Linked DNA regions of Homo sapiens. The protein of the gene in region 4 purifies or fractionates together with the protein of the main gene of each other region. This does not show direct contact. Each region holds a gene or a part of one and is shown on either strand. Other genes may lie near its edges.

What was found. Proteins that work in one complex are often made in the same cells at the same time.
Region 1: the proteins of CSNK1D (region 4) and FAM110B purify together in Homo sapiens (affinity purification with mass spectrometry; 4 studies listed by BioGRID and IntAct, with this or other methods). This does not show direct contact.
Region 2: the proteins of CSNK1D (region 4) and CRY1 purify together in Homo sapiens (affinity purification with mass spectrometry; 4 studies listed by BioGRID and IntAct, with this or other methods). This does not show direct contact.
Region 3: the proteins of CSNK1D (region 4) and CRY2 purify together in Homo sapiens (affinity purification with mass spectrometry; 4 studies listed by BioGRID and IntAct, with this or other methods). This does not show direct contact.

What each region holds. Positions count from the first base shown.
Region 1 is NC_000008.11:58,000,095-58,004,876, reverse strand, and holds part of FAM110B (protein FAM110B), read right to left. Parts: intron 1-4,782. UniProt on the Homo sapiens protein: May be involved in tumor progression.
Region 2 is NC_000012.12:106,992,196-106,996,977, forward strand, and holds part of CRY1 (cryptochrome-1), read right to left. Parts: intron 842-4,782; coding exon 770-841; intron 696-769; coding exon 592-695; exon of another isoform or gene 1-591.
Region 3 is NC_000011.10:45,863,547-45,868,328, forward strand, and holds part of CRY2 (cryptochrome-2), read left to right. Parts: intron 1-4,065; coding exon 4,066-4,206; intron 4,207-4,782. UniProt on the Homo sapiens protein: Transcriptional repressor which forms a core component of the circadian clock.
Region 4 is NC_000017.11:82,248,768-82,253,549, reverse strand, and holds part of CSNK1D (casein kinase I isoform delta), read left to right. Parts: intron 1-305; coding exon 306-534; intron 535-945; coding exon 946-1,116; intron 1,117-2,022; coding exon 2,023-2,171; intron 2,172-3,370; exon of another isoform or gene 3,371-3,852; intron 3,853-3,947; coding exon 3,948-4,119; intron 4,120-4,535; coding exon 4,536-4,675; coding exon of another isoform or gene 4,676-4,782. UniProt on the Homo sapiens protein: Essential serine/threonine-protein kinase that regulates diverse cellular growth and survival processes including Wnt signaling, DNA repair and circadian rhythms. It can phosphorylate a large number of proteins.

The DNA of each region.
Region 1 (4,782 bases), on a different chromosome or scaffold from region 4:
TTCCCGTAAGTCAAGGCCCAATCCAGAGCAAGGCCTTAACTCTCTTCAATGAAGGCTGAGAGAGATGACAGAGCTGCAAAGGAATAATTGAAAGCTAGCAGACGTTGGTTCATGAGGTTTGTTTGTTTGTTTGAGATGGGGTTTTGCTCTGTCGCCCAGGCTGGAGTGCAGTGGTGCGATCTCAGCTCACTGCAATCTCCGCTTCCCGGGCTCAAGCAATTCTCCTGCCTCAGCCTCCCATGTAGCTGGGACTACAGGCACGCACAACCAGGCCTGGCTAATTTTTGCATCTTTAGTAGAGACAGGGTTTCGCCATGTTGGCCAGGCTGGTCTTGAACTCCTGACCTCAAGTGATCCACCCACCTTGGCCTCCCAAAGTGCTGGGATTACAGGTATGAGCCAGTGTGCCCGGCAGTTCATGAGATTTAAGGAAAGAAGCCATCTCCATAACATAGAAGTGCAAGGTGAAGCAGCAAGTGCTGATGTAGAAGCTGCACAAGTTATCTAGAATATGGAGCTAAGATCATTGATGAAGATGGCTACAACTAGACAACAGGTTTTCAGTGTAGACAAAATGGCCTTATATTGGAAGAAGATGTCATCTAGGACAGGGGACCCCAATCCCTGGGTTTAGGAACTAGGCTGCACAGCAAGAGGTGAGTGGCAGGCAAGCAATCCATCTTCTGTCAGATCAGTGGAGGCATTAGATTCTCAAAGGAGCACGAACCTTATTGTGAACTGTGCATGCAAGGGATCTGGGTTGCGTGCTTCTTAGGAGAATCTAATGAAAAATGTAATGAGCTTGAATCATCATGAAACCATCCCCCTCCCCCACCCCATCCCCCAGTCCGTGGAAAAACTGTCTTCCACAAAACTGGTCCCTGGTGCCAAAAATGTTGGGGACTGCTGGTCAAAACTTTCATAGCTAGAGGGAGAAGTCAATGTCTGGCTTCAAAGCTTCAAAAGACAGGCTGACTCTCTCATTAGAAGCTAATGCAGTTGGTAACTTGAAGTTGAAGCCAATGCTGACTTACCATTCTGAATGTCCCAGGGCTCTTAAGAATGATACTAAGTCTACTCTCTCAGTGCTCTACACAACAAAGCCTGGATGACAGCACATCTGTTTACAGTATGATCTACTGAATATTTTAAGACCATTGTTGAGACCCACTGCTCAGGAAAAAGATTCCTTTCAAAATATTACTGCTCAATTACAATGCCCCTGGTCACCCAAAAGCTCTGATAGAGATGTACAAAGACATAAATGTTGTTTTCATGCCTGCTAACACAACATTCATTCTGCAGCACATGGATCAATGAGTAATTTCAACTTTCAAGTCTTATTACTTAAGGAATACCCTTTGTAAGGCTATAGCTGCCATAGATACTGATTGCTCTGATGTATCCAGGAAAAGTGGAAAAGTAAATCAAAAACCTTCTGGAAAGGATTCACCATTCTAAATACCATTAAGAACGGTCATGATTCATGGGAGGAGATCAAAATATTAACATTAACAGGAGTTTGGAAGAAGTTGATCCCAACTCTCATAGATGACTTTGAGAGGTTCAAGACTCCCATGGAGGAGTAATTGCAGATCCGGTGGAAATAGCAAGAGAACTAGAGTTACAAGCGGAGCCTGAAGATGTGACTGAATTGCTGCAATCTCATGATAAAACTAACAGATGAGGAGTTGCTTATTATGGATGAAAAAATAAAGACTCATTTCTTGAGATGGAATCTACTCCTGCTGAAGATGCTCTAAACACTGTTGAAAGGACAACAAACAATTTAGAATATTACATAACTTAGTTGATAAAACAGTGGCAGGGTTTGAGAAGACTGACTACAATTTTGAAAGTTCTACTATGGGGAAAGTGCTATCAAACAGCAACACATGCTCTAGAGAAATCTTTGGTGAAAGGAAGAGTCAGTTGATGCAGCAAACTTCATTACTGTCTTATTTTAAGAAACTGCCACAGCTACCCAAACATGCAGTAACTGCCACCCTGATCAGTCACCAGCCATCAACACTAAGGCAAGAACCTCCAGCAGCAGAAAGAGTATGACTTGCTGAAGGCTCAGATGATCATCAGCATTTTTTAGCAATAAAGTATTTTAATTAAGGTATGTACATTGTTTTCTTAGACAATGCTATTGCACACTTAATAGACTACAGTATAGTTTAAGCATAATTTTTATATGCACCCAGAAACCAAAAAATTCAAGTGACTCACTTTATTGTAATACTCACTTTATGGTGGTGGTCTGGAATCAAACCCACAATTTGTCTCCAAGGTATGCCAGTAGATACTGTCTTCATTGTGGATGAACTTACTGTCTTACAGAAGATACACTCACAAAACCAAGAATACACCAAAAATGCTGCCATCAATTGGTTCAATAAAGGAAGTGTTGGTCAGGAAGGAAAAAGTATGATGTTGCTAGCACTACTGAGAAAGACTTTGTAGAGAAGCAGGACTTAGAGAAGTGGTACCTGGTGTTAACACTCTTGGAGTCAGCTCATTTAAACCAACTTGGGAAGTATACTTTTACAAAAATGTTTTAACAAAACCTGACTCTGATTGTATTACAGATATGTGATTGTTAATTTTATGTGTCTACTTGATTGGTCTACTGGGGTGCCCAGATATCTTGTTAAACATTATTTCTGGCTGTACCTGTGGGTGTTTCTGGAGGAAATCAGCATTGAATTGATGGACTGAGTAAAGGAAAAGGCCCTCCCCAATGTGGGTGGGCATTATCCAACCAGTAGAAGGCCCAAATGGAACAAAAAGGTGAAGAAAGATTGAATTCTCTCTGTCTCTCTCTCTGTCTCTCTCTTTCTCTCTCTCTCTCTCTAGCTGCTTAGCTAATACATCTATATTTTCCTGACCTTATACTAGAACTTATACCATTGGTTCTCCTGGGTCTCCATCTTGGAGACAGCAGATCATGGGACTTCTCAGCCTCCATAATCATGTAAGACAATTCCTTGTAATAAATCTCTTTTTTTCTATGTATATTCTATTGGTTCTGGTTCTCTGGTTCTCTCACTAATACAAGGTATATGTGAATAATTAATACCATCTGGTAAAATGAAAAGTCCAAAGAAAATGAAGATACTTAAGTATCTCTGGCACAAAACGTATAAAGGTATTTGCTAATATGCCGGTATGCTTAATTAAAGGGCCCTGCGATTTGGTCCCTTTATGGATAACTCACAGTACCTAAACAGCAGCATGCTTCACACTGAAATTACTCAGAAAAAGGCTGGTAGAGATAACAACCAGGGATGAACAATCAAAACAGTTCGATCTTGTAACGCTAGTGAATCCTGGAATGAAAAATACCTGTAAGAAAAATCAAACAAGCAAATCAGGCCACATGAGTTAAAACACATGTCACATTGAGGCAAGGGCAGAGCCACTTCTAACTGGAAAAACAGGAAATGCTATGTGTATACTGAACACTAGGCCCCTTTCTCACACACACACACACACCTGCACACACTAGCTCCATGACAAGTGTGGCACTTTCACTGCTTCCATGGAAAATTCATTTGAAGTCAATTTCCAAATAATACAGGCAGACCACAGATATTCTCTGGCACTACCTAAAAGAACATTTCAACTACCCACAAAATATATATTTATATGACTGTACTACTCTCCACCAATAAGAGAGGAACATACAGATTCACTAAGAAGAACTAGAAAAAAAAATCTTCATTAAATTAAGGAACTAAGTTACTAGGCAGGCAGTCTATCCCCGCAAAAACTGTGGCCACTTTACCAAAACATTATAAAACGGTTTATGGTTACACACCCGGGTGCATGTTGCAGGTTGGAACAAAGCCAACAGAAGCTGTGAAGAGCACCCATGACTAGTCATATTAACAACCCACACAATGATTTCTCTTCTTCTATCATTGTCACTAAACAAGAATAAAATGTATTGGGGGGAAAAAATCTGATTTTAAAATCACAACATTCCAATAAATGATCATTTGAAAGGACACTGGCTAGGGATAGATTAAAGGAATTTTTTTTAAATCCCCAACTCACAGTCAACTGTACAATGAACCTCCCAACTCTCACCTTGTTTTAACTATGTGGTAAAAACACACAAGCGTAATCAGGATTCACTGGTATTTCCCAAAATTGCTGAATGCCCAATTTCCAAATGTCTCTTTTTGACCAAGAGTAGAAATGGTGGCCCCCGTGGTAGCCAGAGAAAGTAAACTGACTAACATGTCTGGGCACGTGTGTGACTAAATATATATACACATCCATGAATGTGGAGTGTCTACAAAAGGATTGAAGATAAATCTTGGCATTTTATTCATTAAACTTCACCCAAGGATTGTAGTCAACAAGCAAAAACTGTGCAAGATTAAAAGCCTGAAGAAGAATACACAAATATTCTTATTTCTAAAATGAGTATGATTTCCTGTTGAAAAATACAAACAGCATCAAAATCAATGTACTAACAAAAGTCATTACAATGAGATGTGATATCATAAGTAACATAAAAGAACTTAGCAGAAACTGAGACAATAATCTACCATCCATCATCCATCATCCATCTGGCAGCTTCCCCTATACTCAAACTAAATGGAAACACTCCACCCCAACCCCAACTCCGCTGTGGTCCATAAGGCCCTGCTGACCTGGTTCCTTGGCTGCTATCTCCTGTTCCTCACAAGGGCAGGTTCTGCCTGTCACAGGGCCTTTGCATGGGCCATCCTCAATGCCCAGAGACCTTGCAGAGGTCATTTTATA
Region 2 (4,782 bases), on a different chromosome or scaffold from region 4:
AAATCCAACGTATAAATATTTTTCATATTAATTTAAATCACAAAATGACATCCCAAATCCAATTAAATTGAATGCAGGCAAGGCTTTCTGATACTTCTAATAAGGGCCAGCATTTTAAAAAATTTTGAACTATTCCCAAATTGGAAATAATTTAGATTTTAGAAGCATCATAACAGATAAAAGAAATTTATCAACATTTAAGAGGCAAAGATTTAGGGGAAAGTTCATAAAAAGATTATATTAATGTCACTAAAATAAACAGGCCACTTTAATTGTTTTAGACTCATAGTTACATAGTAAGGAAATAAAAAAGTTGTCTTTTTCTAAGAAAAAACTTGACCACAAAATCATAAACATCTCTAATTTAAAGAGCATTGGTTCAGATGAATATAAAACTGGTGCAACAATTTCTCCAGTACAGATGCATGTCTCTTGACCAAAAATTAACTGAGTTTGTAAAAATTGCTTAAAAATTAATGCCTCAAGATTTTCTGGTTTGAAAATAGAGATTTGCTCCATTTTTGAAATTATCTTAATTTATGTTAATTATATACTCTTCTAAAGCAAGAAATACAGCTCTAAAATATTTACCTAATTAGTGCTCTGTCTCTGGACTTTAGGACCAATACTCTGTGTGTCCTCTTCCTGACTAGGACGTTTCCCACCACTGAGACCAGTGCCCATGGAGCTTCTTCCTGCACATTTAAAAAATGTATGTTTAAGATAGGAAAAGGAAAAAGAACAGTATGCTCCAATGCTTCATTCTTACCTTGCTTCAACAGGTGAGTTTGCTGACTGTCGCCATGAGCATAGTGTAAAATACCACTCCCTTGAGAGCAACCTGTTAGTATTTAAAACACAGTAAAATTACTTAAAATCAAATCCAAGATGTATGTATTATTAAGTCTACAAATCCAACTTTTAGCGCTTGTACTTAAGGTCATTTATATGCTTTTAAGACTAAATCTCAATCTTCCTATGAACCAAAAATCACATGCTCAAACCAGGAAAACTTAAATTTAGGCTCACAGAAGTGTTGACAGCTCAAAGGAAAAATCATTGATGATCATTTTCTAAAAAACATTTCCTTACTAGATGACAATTTGAAACTTGACCATGAAGGTAAAACATAGGGGCAAGAGTGAGATAGACATTCCTCCCTCACTCTTGTCCCTTTTCCCACGCTTTTCCTTCAGAGCTCCTCCAAACATATTTCCTTGAGGATAAGGGAATAAGGGCCTGCCCGATGAGTTAAACAATTCAAATCATACGACAAGCAGAAGACACAGACTATGTGGCAGTTACCTAGCCTAAGCAATCCTATCAACCCTTCTAAAAACAAACACTATTATAGGAGAATAGGTTGGCTAGAACAGAGAAGTATGTTTTAGGGAAACATTTCTGTCAGTGTGTCCAGTTTATGGAAAAATATGAGCATTCTGGACCTATCCACGAGCAGGTGGATAGGTCAACACCTTATGGCCTGAACAAGACTGTGCACTTACTTTCGTTTTAATTAACTTCAATCCCAGGCAATCAGTGGCAGTTGCTCACCCTAAGTGAGTATGAAGTACTATCCCATAGTTGTTTTAATTTGCATTTCCCTAATGACTAATAATGCCGATGAACTGATATTTTACAATAAAAAAACCTAAAAGTTAAATAAAAACTAAAACATATTGCTACAGTAGTAAACATATTACAGTCTGTTTTATTATAAGAACAAAAGTAAGACTTCTATGTATAGTTTATTCCTTTCCTGAGCACATGTGCACACACACACAAATACAAAGATGAGCAGAGAAAAATGCAATTTGTGTTGCAGAGATTAAGAATGTTCCACAGTCATTAAAAAAACAAACAAAAACAAACAAACAAAAAACTAAGACAAGTAAAAGAATTTTGCCCTTTGACATGCCTTGTAAGGTACTATAAAAGCCTACAGACAGGATAAGTGTAAGGCATAAAAGGATATGCTTTAGAAGCATTTAAGTCCTTTCAAATGGGGCAGAAACCTGAGAGGAGAAATGTTTAATATTAATAGCATAGCCCAAGCCGTGTCTTTTCACAATTTCCCATTTCCAGGTCTAAAATGTTTTTTTCCTTCATCTGACTACCCAAATGCTACTCAATCCTGCCACCTTTCAAGAAAGTTTCTCTAGTCCCTTCAGCTCTCAATAATCTCTCCCTTTTCTCATATTGCACATGGAGGCAGCATCTTATAATTTATCACTTTTTCATTTGTTTTTGTTTTCCCTCCACACCCCCATTTATACTTAAGTTCTACTTAGCTTTTCATGTCTCATGTCTTTTGAAAGCCTCCAAGAAGCTGGCTACAAACTATGTTACAGGCAAATATTTACATGATTAAAATAATTTCAAGATTTATTAATTCTTCTATTATATAATAAACTACCCTATATACATTTGTGAAGCAAAATTGTCCCAATTTAACCTGCTACTATGATTAGCTTTTGAAGATAATTCCAAATAAACGACACAGGTTTGAGTGGTCTAAGAAGCAGTCTGTGCCATCATTGTGTATTAGCCCAACCCTTGGTTCCTAGCCCATTGCTACCTGCCTGTTATCTTAGTGCTTCACAGAGCTTCTGTCCCTCACTCATGTGTGGGCTGACAAGGCAGGCTGTGAACTGAACAAGAGATCTGAAAGAACTTTTGAAATGATTATCTTGTGGAAGTTTATTCAAATTGTAGGAGATACTGAGAAGGAACATTTCTCAAGTATACTGCCATCACTGGCAACTGTCGACTGCTGGGTGGATCACATTCCAGGAATAAAATATTTTCTCTTGTAAACACTTATGGCATTCCATTTGCAGAGGAGGCCCAATGATGCAGGAAGAAGTACAAGCTTTGGAGCTAGTCAGACTTGGATCTGAATCTTAGCTCAACTACTTACTAACTGTGGGATCTTGGTTAAGTTACCTAATCTTTCTAGGATTATTTCCCCAAATATAAAATGAGGATCCCACTACCTCCTCCCCAGGTTACTGTGAGAAAGTATGCAAAAATCCCTTACTATCTACTGGGCAAAGGTAGGCAGTCAAAATGTGAGTGCTTTTGTCCCCTTCTCCCAAAACTAATTCTTGGAGGATAAAATACATGCTGTTTTCATGAGGATGCAGGACATTTCTGAATTCAAAAAGGTTCAGTTTTTAAAAGGTTTTATTCTTAATATCAACTTAGAACATCTGACTTAAAAAAGCATTCCTCAAATGCTACCCTGTTTTTATCCTGTTTTTTTTATTTTGAAAAATATAGATTCACAAACAGTTGTAAAGTTAGTACAAAGAGGTCCTGTTTCCCTATCTTCTTAGTGACATCTTATGAAACTACAGTACAACAATATAACCAGGTATTGACATTGATACAAAGTGTTTGTATGATTTTATGCTCTTTTATCACATGTATAGATTTCTTTTTTCTTTTTTTTCCCTTCAATTTTTATTTTAAGTTCTGGGGTACATGTGCAGGATGTGCAGGTTTGTTACATAGGCAAACATGTGCCATGGGGGTTTGCTGCACAGATCAACCCATCACCTAGGTATTAAGACCAGCATGCATTAGCTATTCTTCCTAATGCTCTCCCTGCCCCTGCCCCCCCAACAGACCCCAGCATGTGTGTTTTGTTGTTTTTTGTTTTTGAGATGGAGTTTTGCTCTTGTTATCCAGGCTGGAGTGCAATGGCGCGATCTCAGCTCACCACAACCTCTGCCTCCTGGGTTCAAGTGATTCTCCTGCCTCAGCCTCCCAAGTAGCTGGGATTACAGGCATGCGCTACCACGCCCGGCCAATTTTGTCTTTTTAGTAGAGACGGGGGTTTCTCCATGTTGGTCAGGGGCTGGTCTCAAACTCCCAACCTCAGGTGATCCACCCACCTCGGCCTCCCAAAGTGCTGGGATTACAAGTGTGAGCTACTGCACCTGGCCCCAGTATGTGTTGTTCTCCGCATGTATCCATGTGTTCTCATCATTCTACTTCCACTTACAAGCAAGAACATGAGGTGTTTGGTTTTCTGTTCCTGCCTTAGTTTGCTGAGGATAATGGCTACAAGCTCCATCATGTCCCTGCAAAGAACATGATCTCGTTCCTTTTTATGGCTGCATAGTATTTCATGGTACATATGTACCACATTTTCTTTATCTAGTCTATCATCGACTGGCATTTAGGTTGATTCCACGTCTTTGCTAATGTGAATAGTGCTGCAATGAACATACGTGTGCATGTATCTTTATAACAGAATGATTTATATTCCTTTGGGTATATACCCAGTAATGGGATTGCTCAGTCAAATGGTATTCCTGCTTCTAGATCTTTGAGGAATCACCACACTCTCTTCCACAATGGTTGAACTAATTTACAATCCCATCAACAATGTAAAAGCCTTCCTTTTTCTCTGCATCCTCACCAGCATCTGTTGTTTCTTGACTTTTTAATAATCACCATTCTCACTGATGCTGTCCTATTTTTTAATCAAATTACTGAGCTTCATGCTATTTTTGGTCAAAGCCAAAAACTAATATGATGGTTCAAATTTCTAACACATACTGAGTTCCTGAAATTATTAATATCACACATAAGAATTTACATGGTCACTAAATTTGTATCATACAGAAAACTACTACAGACCAGACTTTATAAGAAAAACTTATGTGCAAAAAGACTAGAGGGCTCTATGCATGTGTACAATAAATCTTTTGGCCATGTTCACAGGGCCACTGACTTTCTTAACTAATTACCTTATAGTTGCCATACACCTAA
Region 3 (4,782 bases), on a different chromosome or scaffold from region 4:
AGGATGTTTATTTTAGCTTCCTTCAGTTCTCCAAATCTGAAGGGAGCACCTACTCATGCCAGTTTAGCAATACTAGATAGAAGAAGGTATGTGCCTCTTTTCCGAAAGCACCAGGAAAAGTCCCAAGGCATGTTTTCATTGTCCTGGTTTGGGTCATGTGACTGTCCCTGACTCAATGACTGTGGCCAGGTATAGGAGGTGGTGCTTTCCCTGGCCAGACTTGCATCATGAGTCCGCTCCCAGAACTGGAAGGTAGGTTTAGCTCTGCTTTATCCACTCGGACTAGGATCAGGGAAGGCTGATTCTCCACAGGAATATGAGATGCTGTTACTGAAAAGCAGAGGAAGCTACATGATCTTTACCACTGGGTTACTCAATAGTAGATGAGGGCAAGCATCTCTCTATAAAAGTATTCTGATTATTAAATTAAAAAGGAATGGTGGAATTTGAATACCACCATTTTGTAACCCTCAATAATGATGCATTATGTATTGGTGACTGCTGACACCATAGAAGGAGGCAAGCATTATGTGCCCCCTGTAGTCTTGTCAAAGGGATCAAACCTGAGTCCAGTCCAGTTTCTGGTACTAGCCACCAATGTGCAGGTGATACACAGGACACAGCACTTGTTGAACTGCACCATGAGTATACAGTCAGCAAAATCCAGACTGTGGGAATCTTGGCAAGTCAGATGGCCTGGATTCTTTCCCAGAACAATGGAAAGGAAAAGAAAAAAATGGCATAAAATGTGCAGATTAAAAGAAAATTAAATAACATATTAAAGTTTTTTTTAAGGCCAGGCACAGTGACTCACACCTGTAATCTTAGCACTTTGGGAGGCCAAGGCAGGAGGATCTCTTGAACCTAGGAGTTCAAAACCAGCCTGGGCAACATGACAAGCCCTCATCTCTAAATAAAAACAAATTAGCCGGGTGTGGCAGCATGTGCCTGTAGTGCCAACTACTTGGGAGGCTGAGGTGGGAGAATCACTTAAGCCCAGGAAGTCATGCCACTGCACTCCTGCCTGGGTGACAGAGAGTGGGGTCTCAGAAATAAAAGAAAAAGAATCCCAGCACTTTGGGAGGCCGAGGCAGGTGGAGCACTTGAAGTCAGGAGTTCGAGACCAGCCTGGCCAACATAGTGAAACCTCATCTCTACTAAAAATACAAAAACTAGTTAGGCATGGTGGCGAGTGCCTGTAATCCCAGCTACTTGGGAGGTTGAGGCACGAGAATCGCTTGAACCTGGGAGGCGGAGGTTGCAGTGAGACGAGATCATGCCACTGCACTCCAGCCTGGTTGACAGAATGAGACTCTGTCTCAAAAAAAAAAGAAAACTGAGTAGCTGGGATTACAGGCTCCCACAATCATGCCTGGCTAATTGTTGTCCTTTTAGTAGAGACAGGGTTTCACCCTGTTGGCCTGACTGGTCTCAAACTCCTGACCGCAAGTGATCCTCCTGCCTCAGCCTCCCAAAGTGCTGGAATTACAGGCATGAGCCACCACACCCGGGCAGAAATAAAGTTTTTTAAATGGCCAAGACTAAATTGTAATACCTAGGAATGCACATTTGGGTAAAAAAAAAAAAGCTACTTAAACACAAAGAATAACTGTGAAAAGATAAAGTCCTTCCTTTCAAACGTTTTGCCAAAATAGAAAAATGTAAACATTTCAGAAATGCAGAACGTGTTTATTATAAAAGCTGAGGTAGGGGTTGCATATACTGGGGGGCAGGAGGGAACTATTCCTGGGATGAGCACATAGACTCTTGGGGTGGCTGTCAAAGCTCTGTTTCCCAAACCTTGGTGGCTATTGCGTGGATGTTTGCCTTAGAATAATTCATTAAGTCACACATGTGTGTGATTTTCTGTATCCAAGTTTCATTTAAAATAAAAATATTTTAAAAGCTGGGGGCTAGCAAGGGTGTGTACACGCAAAAATACCTAGTATCTGTTAGAAGTGCTTAACCTGATACCACAGGGGTTACCTGCAGAGGAGGAAGCCTTGAGGTTGCGACTTGAAGGAAGAGTCTCAGTTAACCAGGTGAAGGTGAGGGAAAGGAAGACAGTGGTCCAGAGGCAGCTGCTTGTGCAGAGGCAAAGGCCAGTGAGAGCAGATGCGTAAAGAAGAGGGGCAGCAGGAGGCGGAGGGTACAGTGAGCCGAGATCACACCACTGCACTCCACCCTGACCCTGTCTCAAAAAAAAGGGGCAAGAGACAGAGCTGGAAAGGCCTGGGTGCTGGGGAGCCACAGAAGCTTTCATGAAGATTTGGGCTCTGTCCTCAGAGCAACAGGAAGCCCACTGTGTACATTATCCCGAGCAACAGGCATTACATTACTCTGGTCCCAGCGTGGAGAATGAGTTAGCGGGGGATGGGAGTGGACGCAGGGAGGCCAGTCAGGAGGCTGCCACAGTTGTCCAGTCTAGATATGACCTTAGCCTGAACCAGGTTGGTGGCAGCAGGGAATGGAAAGAAAAGGACAGATTTGGGAAATATTTAGGCAGTAGAATTGACAGGACTTGGTGAGGGGACAAAGGTGATGGCTAGGATTGTGCCTTGGGCAGCTAGGTAGCTAGCAGTGTATTATCTGAGGTAGGGAGGCCAATGGAAGGGTGGGTTAAAAGAAAAGGGCACATCTCCCTTGAGCTGCCTGAGAGGCAGCCAAGTAGAGGTTTCTAGCAGGCAGCTGGGTGGAGCAATCTGGGCTAGAGCTATGGATGTGGTGGTTGTCTGCAAAGGGGTGGAACTGGGAGCCATGGGCCTGGATGAGCTTGCTGAGGCACACAGTTGAGTAGAGAACCTAGAGCTGAGCCCTGGGTACCCACATTTAAGGGAGAGGCAGAGGAGGTGGAGCTGATGAAAGACCAAGAGCGCCAGGCAGCTGGGAGATACCAGGAGATGTGGAGTCACAGAGGCCAAGGAATCAAGAGGATAAGACAGCACAGTTGGCAGGTATAGCGCTGCTGAGAGATCCCAAAATACAAGGTCAGAAAGTGCCTGCAGGACTCAGTGGCACAGAAGTCACAGGAGACTCTTGTGGGAACCAGCCTTGTGGTCACCTGAGGTTTGGAGTTAGAGACCAGCCTGGCCAACATGGCGAAACCCCATGTCTACTAAAAATACAAAAATTAGCCAGGTGTGGTGGCAGGTGCCTATAATCCCAGCTACTCAGGAGGCTGAAGAGAGTCAAGGTTGTGAAACAGTATCATGGAGAGGAGGAGAGGATGTTGGGAGTTAAGAAAGTGGAAATAGGCCGGGCACAGTGGCTCACACCTATAATCCCAGCACTTTGGGAGGCCAAGGTGGGCGATCAGGAGAATCCCTTGAACCCGGGAGGTGGAGGTTGCGGTGAGCCGAGATCACGCCACTGCACTCCAGCCTGGGTGACAAGAGCAAAACTCTGTCTCAAAAAAGAAAAAAAAATAAATAAAAAAAGTCGTGAGAGACTGCATGGAACAGCAAGTCAGGAAAGTAAAGTCCTATGCCAGCAACCAGTGATGATAAAAACATGACCAGTAATGTTATATGACACATGGCCCCAGAAATGAATGATTCCATTGGTCCCCAGGAATGGATTGGAAGTTTCCTCCTTCCCCAGCTGCTGTTGAACAATAATGCGAAGTCCCTGGTGTCTGTGATACAACCTCAGGGCCGCTAGTGACTAGAGAAGGGACTGAGATATTCTTTTCTGTAACATAGAAGCCTTGTTTCCTGCTGTATAATTAGAGAGTTCATTCAGTGCTTTCAGAATTCTTTCATATCTCATTTTAATCCACAGAAGATTGGAAATTTTGTTCTTATTTAATAGATACGTAGCTGAGGGAAGTAACAACGTGTTCACAGTCACCCCACAAATTAAAGAGCAAGTCAGAGAATGACATAGACTCGTTGTTTGGTCTGATGGTGGTTCCGTCTCAAAATCGGCTGGACAAGCACAGTGTTCCATGGCTCCATGGCTGGCTGTTCTGTGACCGTAGGCAGATTCCTTAACCACCCAATGCCTCCATTTTTTCCTCTGTTACATCCAAGCCTTTCCTTTTGCCACCTTCTCTTTCTGCTGTAGGCCTGGGTTGCCAACTATGAGAGACCCCGAATGAACGCCAACTCCCTCCTGGCCAGCCCCACAGGCCTCAGCCCCTACCTGCGCTTTGGTTGTCTCTCCTGCCGCCTCTTCTACTACCGCCTGTGGGACCTGTATAAAAAGGTAAGGGGGACATACCTGCCCACATTGCACCTAAGGCCTGCAGCCAGGCCTTTTGGGCTTGTCAGTCACCCTAAAAAAGGCACTGGTGGGTGGGGGTTGGGCTATGGCCCCTGGAAGGGCCTAAGTGTGTGCAGATAGTCCGGAGGAGGAGAGAAGACTCAATATCCAAGAGGGCAGAGCCAAGCACAGAGTGAACTGCCCACCAGAATGAAGCCCAGACCATCATGTAGAGCAGAAGGACAGGCAGAAAAGCAGGCCTCAGGTGTGACCCTAGAGGTGGCATATCCTCTGGCAGCTGGTGGACAGGGGCGAGGTCCCCAGGGTGAGAGGCATGGAGAGGGTGAGGCTGGAGCCAGTCTGAAGTGGAAGAGCATAGCTGCCCGCTCTGGAGCTGTGTCCACAGCATTCAAAAGGGGAGTCCAGGAACAGCAGTTGCCCATCAGTGATGGAGGGAGTGGTGTGGAGGGGCTGCACACAGGGCTGTGCTATACAGACAAGAAGCAAATAAGCCTGTGTTAACTGTCCCCAGAAGGAGAGAGGGCAACACAGTCAGCATTCAGAGGGATCACCTCATCT
Region 4 (4,782 bases):
AGAACAGTGCTGGGAGAGACCGATGTCTAGTGGCGGGTTGTCCCCTCTCTGTCGCCTCACCTCTCTGTTTTGTGGGAGCTGAAGGCAAAGCGCCTAGGCCTGTGGAGGGTGGAGTGTGGAGGGTTGCTGCAGGCACCTGGGGGAACAATTTGGTCAGTTCGGCATCCCCCTCGCTAATTGTTAAACTACCCTGCTGTGGCTGAGGGGCAGGAACAATGCAGCCACTGATGTAGTGTCCCACAGTTGAGCGGTCCCTCCCTGAGACTGCCCTGGGGTGCCATCTCGCGCCCTTGCTCTGCTCACAGATCAGTCGCATCGAATACATTCATTCAAAGAACTTCATCCACCGGGATGTGAAGCCAGACAACTTCCTCATGGGCCTGGGGAAGAAGGGCAACCTGGTGTACATCATCGACTTCGGGCTGGCCAAGAAGTACCGGGATGCACGCACCCACCAGCACATCCCCTATCGTGAGAACAAGAACCTCACGGGGACGGCGCGGTACGCCTCCATCAACACGCACCTTGGAATTGGTGAGCCCCTGGGCATGGGGTCACTGACCTGGGGTGCCTTTGGGCGCGTCCATGCCTCAGCCCAGGGAGAGGCCAGCCTCTCGGGGAGCTGGGGCTGCAAGCGTGTCATCAGACCTTTGCGGCAGACAGGCTGGCTCGTGACTGCCAGGTGTATGGGGGCAGGCGGATGCTGGGACATTTCTGAGTCACCTGTGATGTGTTTGGGAATTTCCTTAGTATGCATGAGGGGCAGCTCTGGGTGAGAGTGATCTGGGCATGTGTGTCCGAGGTTCGTCTCCACTGGAAGTGCCAGCTGGAGTGATCTGGGCATGTGTGTCTGAGGCTAGTCTCCACTGGAACGGCCAGCCGGGTCTTTTGCTTTGACGTGAGCACGCAAGTGCCGTTCTTCACGCCTTTCCCTTTTCTTTTCAGAACAATCCCGAAGAGATGACTTGGAGTCTCTGGGCTACGTGCTAATGTACTTCAACCTGGGCTCTCTCCCCTGGCAGGGGCTGAAGGCTGCCACCAAGAGACAGAAATACGAAAGGATTAGCGAGAAGAAAATGTCCACCCCCATCGAAGTGTTGTGTAAAGGCTACCCTTGTAAGTCTCTGGAGGCCTCTTCTCAGCGGAGCTGCTCACAGGGGTTGCATATGTGTCGGGTGTGCCGAGACGGCTCAGTCTGGGTTTTGTCAGAAGAGTTGCTCACCTTCCAAAGGGGTGGTGGCAGGAAAGCGGGGCGCTTTTGTGTATGGAGGTAACAGCCTGCCCTCCTGTTCATCTTGACTTACTTGCCAAGTGCCCATCAGCGTGGGGAGTACTTGGAGGCCCTGGAGAGATGGCAGGCAAGGCAGGCCCGAGCCTCAGGGCCCCAAGTGGCTGGAAAGGGATGGACAGGCAGTGGTGGGGCCTCTCTCTGCAGTGGCTGCCCTCTCTGGCCCCCTCCAGGAGCTCGGGAGATTTCCTTTGCATTTGTAGGATTGCCCCAGGATACACACCTCAAATGAAACTAAATTGTGCTTTATGACTTCTTTTTTTTTTTTAAGACACAGTCTCACTCTGTCGCCAAGGCTAGAGTGCAGTGGCGTGATCTCGGCTCACTGCAAGCTCCGCCTCCCGGGTTCATACCATTCTCCTGCGTCAGCCTCCCCGGTAGCTGGGACTACAGGCGCCCGCCACCACGCTCTAGAACTTTTTTTTTTTTTTTTTCAGTAGAGATGGGGTTTCACTGTGTTAGCCAGGATGGTCTTGATCTCCTGACCTCGTGATCCGCCCTCCTCAGCCTCCTAGAGTGCTGGGGTGACAGGCGTGAGCCGCCGCACCCGGCCGTGACTTGAATACTTTTCGATGCTTTCTCAAGGCTTCAGGTCTTAGAAATCTGACAGGTGTTTTGCATCTGTCCTTCTCCCCTTGAGTGTGCAGCAGCAGGAGGTAGACAGCGACGTTGGCAGAGACACCTTGAGTCGCAGTTGGGTTTCATGAGTTAGCTTTGAGTTTCTTGTTTTGTAGCCGAATTTGCCACATACCTGAATTTCTGCCGTTCCTTGCGTTTTGACGACAAGCCTGACTACTCGTACCTGCGGCAGCTTTTCCGGAATCTGTTCCATCGCCAGGGCTTCTCCTATGACTACGTGTTCGACTGGAACATGCTCAAATTTGTAAGTCGCACTGCCAGCACGTTCGCTGAGTGTGGTGTGCGGGGGATGGCTTGTCAGTGAGAGGCCGGCGGCCGTCTTGTTGAGGGGCTGTACCATATAGGGAGTGTCTCTGGTTGTGAAGGGCAAGTGTGTAGTGGGCAGGACCTGGACTGAGTGGGTGTCTGCCTGCCAGAAAGGGGTGCCAAGAAGTAAGACGCCATTAGGGAACGCAGAGGGGTCCATGGAATTCCTGGGTGTGGACAGCAGGAGGCCCCTTCCCTCCCTGTCACCAAGCGGAGCTAGGGCCCAGAGCATGCCCTGGGGGCAGAGGGTGGGGGCTGGGGGTGCGCATTCCCATTCGCTGTGCCACATGGTCGTGGTGCCCACGAGATGAGTGGGGTTGGGGCCTGGTGAGGTGCTACCCGTCTAGCCTGACTGACCCTGTCATGAGCTGATTTTCCCTGTGGCTTTCTTGATGCGGTGTGAGTATGCAGTGGAGCCTCTAAAACAGGCAGCCCAGCCCTGGGTCCATGTCTGAGCTGAATTACTTTTCAGACACCGCTGTCAGAAATGAAGCTCCTGTGGAACTGTTGTGTTCCTTCATTAAAAACTTACTGTTTTGTTGTCAGTTTTAAATAGAATTTGGAGCTTTTCCAGGCAGCAGTCTGATGGAGGAGCAGAACTGCCTCTTGGGAGGGTACAAAAACGGCAGCCTTGTCCAGTAGTCGTGCAGGGGCCAGGGAGGGGCGGGGTCTCCAGATGCTGGGAGGGGTGCACTCTGTTCATCTTGACTTACTTGCCAAGTGCCCATCAGCGTGGGGAGTACTTGGAGGCCCCGGAGAGATGGCAGGCGAGGCAGGCCCGAGCCTCGGGGCCCAGGTGCCGGGAGGGGTGCACTCGGCAGGGCAGATCAGTCCCTCTGCCGGGGCTGTGCTGCCTCGGGAGGAATCAGAGCGACCCTCCTGCGGCATTAGAGTCACCCGGCCCTCAGAGCAGGCTAGGCCAGCGTTTTCCGTAAATGGCAGCATGAGGAGTCTGGGCGGTGCTGGCCGCACGGTGCTGCAGCCGCAGGTGTGTCGGTCTGTGTGTTGCCTGGTGAACGTGGCTGTGTCCAATGAGCTGTACTTGCAGGAAGAAGTGGCACCTGGGTTTGGCCCCGGGGCTGTAGTTTGCAGGCCCCTGCCGCACAGCATTGGCAGTTAGAATCTGCTTTTTCATAGGTTGCTGTCTCGGCTTAAAATCTGACCTCCCCACCCCCGTGCATCTGGATAGTGCAGCACAGATCCGGCTGCCGGCTGCTGGCCACGCCACCACACCTGCACAGGCTGTTGGAGGCTGCAGGGTCCGGACCCTGAGTGTACTCCTCGTCCGACCAAACGCTCTCATCCCCACCCCGCTTTCCTCCCCAGCTGTCACCATTTGGGGCCTGTCTTTGGCCTCCGATGGTTCCTGTCCCTCTCCTCTTTCTGCACGTGTTAGTGAGCATGTTCACAGAGCAGCAGGGGGTAGCTGCTGCCCATTTGGAAGTTTAAGGAAGTTCTGAGCCCACAGGGAGATGCCATGGCGAGTGGGGTTTTTTCGATTGTTGGGGGAGCTGAGAGGCCTGGCTCTGACCCCTTGTGGGGATGATGCTGTCATCCCATGAGGAGAAACGTGCAGCCTGTGGGGGGCTTTGCAGGCAGTCTCGTCCCAGTGCCCTTTGGTAGGTATTTTCTCACGTGGCCGGGGCAGCCTAGGACCTAGGGTTGCTTTCTGCCAAAGCTGGTTCCATTCCGGCCTCACCTCCTGCCTCCTCAGGGTGCCAGCCGGGCCGCCGATGACGCCGAGCGGGAGCGCAGGGACCGAGAGGAGCGGCTGAGACACTCGCGGAACCCGGCTACCCGCGGCCTCCCTTCCACAGCCTCCGGCCGCCTGCGGGGGACGCAGGAAGTGGCTCCCCCCACACCCCTCACCCCTACCTCACACACGGGTGAGTGCCCCCCTCCCAGCGCTCTGGGGCTGGCTCTGGGGTGACTTCTTGTGTCTTGGGGTTGGTGGGGACAACAGGGTACTTGGTGGTGGACACTAAGTGCCCTGTGTCAGGCGATGCTCGCTCCTGAGGGTGGATGAGCCAGGCTGCCCAGGCGCCTTTAGAAATGCCGGCACCTGCTGGTGTGCGTGATTCCTCCCGCATCTCACGTTCCTCCCCTGTGAGCCCCTTGACCTCGCTCCCATGTCCCTTTGTGTCCCTCCGGCCGGATCTGAGTGTTGGTGGCCATCGGCCACAGCCAGGTCCTGACTGTCCAGGCAGCCCAGGGTCCTCTCTGGCCACAGCCTCTCATAGAAAGCCCCGAGTGAGAGGCAGCAGACGGGGGCGGCCCACTCCGTTTCTCTCCCTGTCCTCAGCTAACACCTCCCCCCGGCCCGTCTCCGGCATGGAGAGAGAGCGGAAAGTGAGTATGCGGCTGCACCGCGGGGCCCCCGTCAACATCTCCTCGTCCGACCTCACAGGCCGACAAGATACCTCTCGCATGTCCACCTCACAGGTAGGTGCAGAGCTCCCGGGCGGGCGCTGGGCCTCGGGCTACCCCGTCCGAGTCAAGAGCGGGCTGTGGTTTCTCCAGGGCTTCTTCTTTCCTTTCTTCCCCCCATT